2 separate regions of the Homo sapiens genome follow, and region 1 is linked to region 2. The links come from fine-mapping of genetic effects on plasma protein levels. Region 2 holds a variant in brackets. A gene starts in the other region. All regions are shown on their forward strands.

The links. PIP is the chance, under the fine-mapping model, that this variant and not a neighbour inherited with it causes the effect. The UK Biobank Pharma Proteomics Project read protein levels with antibody pairs (Olink). The fine-mapping took linkage between variants from a reference panel, not from the people measured, so its PIPs are less certain.
Region 1: KLK12 starts here. The variant in region 2 is fine-mapped to the plasma level of the KLK12 protein (UK Biobank, PIP above 0.99).

Annotation. Positions count from the first base shown.
Region 1 is chr19:51,033,467-51,036,370 of GRCh38, forward strand. KLK12 (kallikrein related peptidase 12) reads right to left here and starts at 1,536. Exons shown (of 6, transcript NM_001370125.1): 1 at 1,340-1,536; 2 at 1,119-1,174; 3 at 514-673. The coding sequence starts at 1,155.
Region 2 is chr6:2,243,631-2,246,508 of GRCh38, forward strand. It overlaps GMDS (GDP-mannose 4,6-dehydratase), which reads right to left and starts at 1,975. Exons shown (of 11, transcript NM_001500.4): 1 at 1,691-1,975. The coding sequence starts at 1,792. GMDS-DT (GMDS divergent transcript) reads left to right here and starts at 2,123. Exons shown (of 7, transcript NR_046229.1): 1 at 2,123-2,300. RefSeq lists an enhancer at 1,617-2,117 and a silencer at 1,618-2,247. The variant A/G (reference allele first, on the strand shown) is at 1,481.

The sequences.
Region 1 (2,904 bases), not on the chromosome of region 2:
TTAGCTGGGCATGGTGGCGGGTGCCTGTAATCCCAGCTACTCAGGAGGCTGGGGCAGGAGAATCACTTGAACCTGGGAGGCAGAGACAGCAGTGAGCTGTGATCACGCCATTGCACAGCAGCCTGGGCGACAGAGCGAGACCCTGTCTCAAAAAAATAAAAAAAAGAAAAAGAAAAAGAGCTTGGGTGAGACCTGGGCCCCGGGCCCAGACTGGGTCAAGGAATGGCTGGGGTGAGTGGCAGATGTCATATAGGAAAGAAAGGGTACATGCAGGAATGGGAGAGGCAGGAGGGCAGGTTCCAGGACCCTCCCCGGCCCTCCACCCAACATACCTCACCCTGCCCAGCACCACCCCAGGCCCACTGCTAAGGAAGTTCCACTCCTGGTCTAACCTCAGACTCTCTTGTTGCAGGATCAGCTTCTTCCCAGTGGGCACCACCCTCCCTTGTGATCCTACCCCCAGCGCTTGCCTTCCCATAGTCCTCCCTTCGCCCACCCCAGGAAGGGACTTACCTGCCGCTGCAGTGAGCCGCTGTGAGGACCCACCTGTGGTCAATAAGGACACCCCCGCAGCGCAGGCTGGTGCCCTCAAACAGCCCCACCTGCCACGGCTGTGAGTTACGCCCACACTCAGTGCCATTGAAAATCTTCGGTGTGGCTGCCTGGCTGAGCCCTGGAGACAGACAGGGGCATGGGTCAGAGAGAGGAAGAAAAGATACAGAGATGGAGAGACACACAGAGTGAGAGAGAGAAACAGGCAGGAGAGAGAGAGGAGAAAGAGAGACGAGAAAGAGAGAGAAAGAGAGAGAGACCCAGTGATAGAAAAAGACCATGAAACATCAAAGACACCCAGGGAGAAAGATGCTTACACATAGGAGGGAAATGGAGAGACAGAGATTCAGAGAGGGACAGAAGGGAAGAGGGATCAAAAAATAGGGGAGACCGAGGTGAGCAGTACCCTGAGAGCTGCAGGTAAATGGAGGCACAGAGAAAGCCCCTCTCCTCCTCACCACCAGGCTGGGGGCCAGAGCTGAGATGGGGAGGGTGGTGGGGCCTCCTCATGGGGGTGAAGGGATCCAGTCGCAGTCCTGCCCTCTCCCTGCTCCGGGAGAACTCACCAAGAACACACAGGAGCAAAAAGATGCTGAGCCCCATGGTGGGTCACTTCCAAAGTCTGGGGGAAAAGGGGAATCTCAGAGGTCACCCTTTCCCTGTGCCCCCCACCTCTGCCCTCTCTGCTTCTCTTTGAAGGTCACCAAGGGGATGACCTGCTTGTCCTCTCTCTACCTGCTCCCCTGTGTGTCACTCCCTCATTGGCAGTCGCCTACCTCCTTCTCACCTTGTCTCTTTGTCTGCCAGATCCTCTACGTGGCTGTCACTGTTTGGCCTGTCCTCGTCGCTGCTATCTCTCCGTCCACCTACCTGCCTGTCTTCTCATGTGCTGGCCACTCCGCCAGCCAACTCTACCACTCTGCACCTGGCTCCTCAGCCACCTGTCATGTTGCTCAACCGGTCCCTTTCCTTCCATCTGTCGCTCCAGACAGACCACTGACAAAGCTCTTAACTCTCTTTGTCCTGGCCCATCCAGTTTCCGGGTTAAGGGAAGGGGACCACGAAGACAGGGGTGGGGCGTGCTCTAATTCTGCAGAAACTCTTCTCAGCTAATCACACTTAATTGAGCTTTACAGCTAAACGGAGTGGGGAAGGAGGAAAGGACCCAGGGTGGGAAGACCCAGCCCCACTCCCTCTCTCCTCTGCAAGCCCGTCAGCAGCCCCAGGACTGATGACTCAAGGTGACTAGGGAGCTGGGTTCTAATCCTGACTCCAGTGACAAAGGAGGGTGGGGAGACCTTGGACACCTGGGGCCCATCCCCATGCAGTGCAGGGGAGGGGCAGGGGGAAGGAGAGGCTGTGAAAGCAGGAGAGTGGACGGGAGGGGCAGGAAGCCCAAGCTAGAAAGAGTCCCAGAAAGAGAAGAAGAGTTGAAGGAACAGACTTCCAAATAGGTGATCAGGCAGGGGTAGAAGAGAGTTTCTGAACTGAGTTCATATATGTACATATGAAGTGGATCAATCTAATTCCATAAAGTTTTTCTTTGCTAAGAACTTCTATTGCTTAAATAAAACCCACAGAGAGAAAAAAAAAAGACACAGGGAAGGAGAAATGGTAGAAAGAGAGAGAGAGAATGAGTCACAGGACAAGGGAACTTTGTGCTGTTTTTTGTTTTTCGTTTTGAGATGGAGTCTCGCTCTGTCACCCAGGCTGGAGTGCAGGGCTGTGATCTCCGCTCACTGCAACCTCCACCTCTTGAGTACCTGGGATTACAGGCACGTGCCACCATGTCCGGCTAATTTTTGTATTTTTAGTAGAGACGGGGTTTCACCATGTGGGCCAGGCTGGTCTTGAACTCCTGGCCTCAAGCAACCTGCCTGCCTTGGCTTCCCAAAGTGCCGGGATTACAGGTGTGAGCCACCATACCTGGCCTCTGTGCTGGTTTATCTGAGTTTTTGCTTCATCTAGGAGGAATGGAAGGAGAGAAAGAAGGAGAGAGAGAGGGGACAGAGAGAGAAAATGAGAACAAAAAGGGAATTCGGCTCAGAGGAAGGGGGATTGAGAAACAAACCAAGAGAAAAGCAGTCAGGGCCAGGCGCGGTGGCTCACGCCTGTAATCCCAACACTTTGGGAGGCCGAGGCGGGCAAGTCACTTGACGCCAGGAGTTCAAGACCAGCCTGGTCAATATGGTGAAACCCCATCTCTACTAAAAATACAAAAATTAGCTGAGTGTGGTGGTGCATGCCTGTAATCCCAGCTGCTCGGGAGGCTGAGGCAGGAGAATCCCTTGAACGTGGGAGGCGGAGCTTGCAGTGAGCCGAGATTGTGCCACCGCACTCCAGCCTGGGCGG
Region 2 (2,878 bases):
ATTCAAGGATTCAATTTCTCAACCTCAGATCCTTGCCCTCTTACTAGTTTTCAAACTCAGATCCACCTCTTACTAGTTTTCAAACTCTTGTCTATTATGATTACCTTAAGCAAAGCAAGATGCATGAATAACCAGCAGTAAATCAGGTATTCAATACTTGAAATTGTGTAATATTCTGTGACTGTGCATCTGGCCAATTTCAACTTCTCCTTCTTTTTTTTTTTTTTTTTTTTTTTTTTTTTTTTTGAGGCAGGATCTCACTCTCTTGCCCCAGGCTGGAGTACAGTGGTACCATCATTGCTCACTGCAGCAGCCTCAGACTCCCGGACTCAAGTGATCCTCCTGCCTCAGCCTCCTGAGTAGCTAGCACTACAGGTGAGCACCAACATGCCTGCCTCATTTTTTAAATTTTTTTGTAGAGACAACGTCTCAATATGTTGCCCAGGCTGGTCTCAAACTCCTGGCCTCACCTCGAGCAATCCTTCCACCTCTGCACACCGAAGTGCTGAGATTTCAAGTATGAGCCGCTGCCTCCTGCCCACTTAGCCCTTTCTAACACTAGAGAACTTTGAGAGTGGTTTCAATACCAACTGGACACTTCCCAGCGGTTTAACCTCAGGCAAATCAAACTCCCATGCCTCAGTTTCCACATATATAGAGATAATAAAAGTACCTCCTCAAAGAGTTTGTTATGAGAACTAAATGAGTTAATGTTAGGCAAGCGACTGGAACATGATAGACACAATATGTATTAGCCATTATCACCTTTATCTCAGTGTTATATTGGCCACCACCCAGAGATACCCAGGAGCACACACATCACATTCTTTCTACAGCAATATGTGGGCACGATTACTTCATGACCACTGAATCTAAAACAGCACAGCTTGGTAAGACACAGCGGTCGGATCCCACCTACTGCAACACCTCTAAGAGGCGACCCTCACAAACCAGCCATGCTTAGCCTGAGACATTCCGAAGACCTCCTCTTGATTACCTTACTCGACGAACTTATTCCTTTGAAAATGGAACTAGCCGCACTTTTGGACCAGTGTGCCTCGGATACACTTCCAAATGTGTCAACCTGAATCTCAGAAGTTGGCGTGATTTTAAAAAGTTTTTTAAGTTCTTTTTCCTAAACATGTCCTAGTAGGTGACTCCACAGCATTACTTTCTTTCATGTTCTCTTTTCTATCTGGAAATCCGGTGATAGGGGACGAAACCAGCAAAGCACCCTTTTTCTTGCTTCCCAAACGTTAGCAGGTAAGCGCCCCTTGAGCCGAGACACATCAAGAAGACCTCACCCGCAAGTTCATTGATCACCGGTTCTTTTCCCTTTCCGGCACTAGGAGCTGCGAAGCACGACATGGGCTTGGAGGAAGAGACGCTGCGGTCACCTGAGGGGCAGGTGAGAGCGGGCGGTCCTGCCCGGGTGTGAGCGCGACATCCCGCGCGGCACACACGCTCACAGCCCCCAGAG[A/G]AAGACCAGAGGCGCTCGATGTATCCCGCACACCCCACACGCAACACACTAACTGCACCGTACCTTCCGTCCCACCTCCCGGCAGCAGACCCCTTCCGGGACGCCGAGAGGGCTGTTCCTGGAGAGACCGCAGCCCACGAGTAGCGGCGCGTAGGGAGAGCACGCGTGCCCAGGCTGCCTCGGCCGGCGCGCCCCCGCCCCCGCACTCACCTGGCCTGTGATACCGGTGATGAGCGCCACGTTCCTGGGCTTGCCCATCTCGCCGTCCCCGGAGCCCCGGGCGCTGGGGCAGCGTGCCGGTGCGTGTGCCATGTCCCGCGGCGGGCGTGCGGTCGGCGGCAGGGCGGAGCGCGGCAGAGGGCAGGCGCGGTGCCGGCAGGAACGCGGGGGTGTGCAGCACGAAGCGCCTCTCCAGGCTGCGGGCAGGGAGGGAGAGCGCACCGCGCGACCGGCCGCCACAGTCTGACAGGGGCGCACGGGAGGCCGTGCAGGGAGGGCCGGGGGCGGGCCGAGCCGGCCAAGGCGGGCCCGACGGGCCAAGCAGCGGGGCTGCGGCCTGACTGGCGCAGCGTCATTCGCGTCAGCCGGCGACGCTGTAGCAGGCCCCGCCCCTCCGCCGACGGCCACCGCGCGGGAGGGGCGGGGCCTGCCGCCGCCACCGCCTCAGGGAAGAGGAAGGAGGCCGCGGCTTCGCGTCCCGCCTCTCGCCTGGCTGGCCGTGGGGGGCCTGGACGCAGTGGCCTCCCGAATCTCCCAGGACCCTAATATCGCCCGAGGATGCTGGGAGGAACGCTGAGCCGACCTCTCCGTTAGGCTGAAGGTCTGAATTTTCAAACCCAGGGGTCACAGGGCCGGGGTCATGGACTTTGATAAATAATTCCTGGAAACCTGTTGCAGTGCCCTTTGAGAAGCCCGGTTTATGGTACCTGAAGGGCAGTAGCGTACAAGGCCCGTAAACGGGGGTCACAGATGTGGGAGTGACTAACTAGGCTGGCTCTCGCTCTTCTGGCCTTTCCTGAGGCTCGGAACCAGTAACGAGGTTCCAAATAGCTGAATTCAAAGTTTTCTCTTCTGAGGACTGCCAGTGCACAAGAAAGTCCCTAGCCCCACCCGTATGCGGCATAAGGAAATGTTGAAAAGACTGCCCGGGTCAATAAACCTGGACGTGGCAGATTTCAAAGAAAGTAATTCAAACACAGGTGGGGTCCCGGCTTACATCTGTTGGATTTGGCTGCCATTTGGCAGCTGCTCGTTGGACAGGGAGAGGAGAGGAGGTGACTCAGAGCCGGGAGGGCAGCAGGTGTGTGTGCCTAAGCAGTTGGCTGCAATCCAGGACACAGACGGAAACTTCCCGGTCTCCGTTGCTCTGCTTCTCTGTCCACATTCCTCTCCCTAATC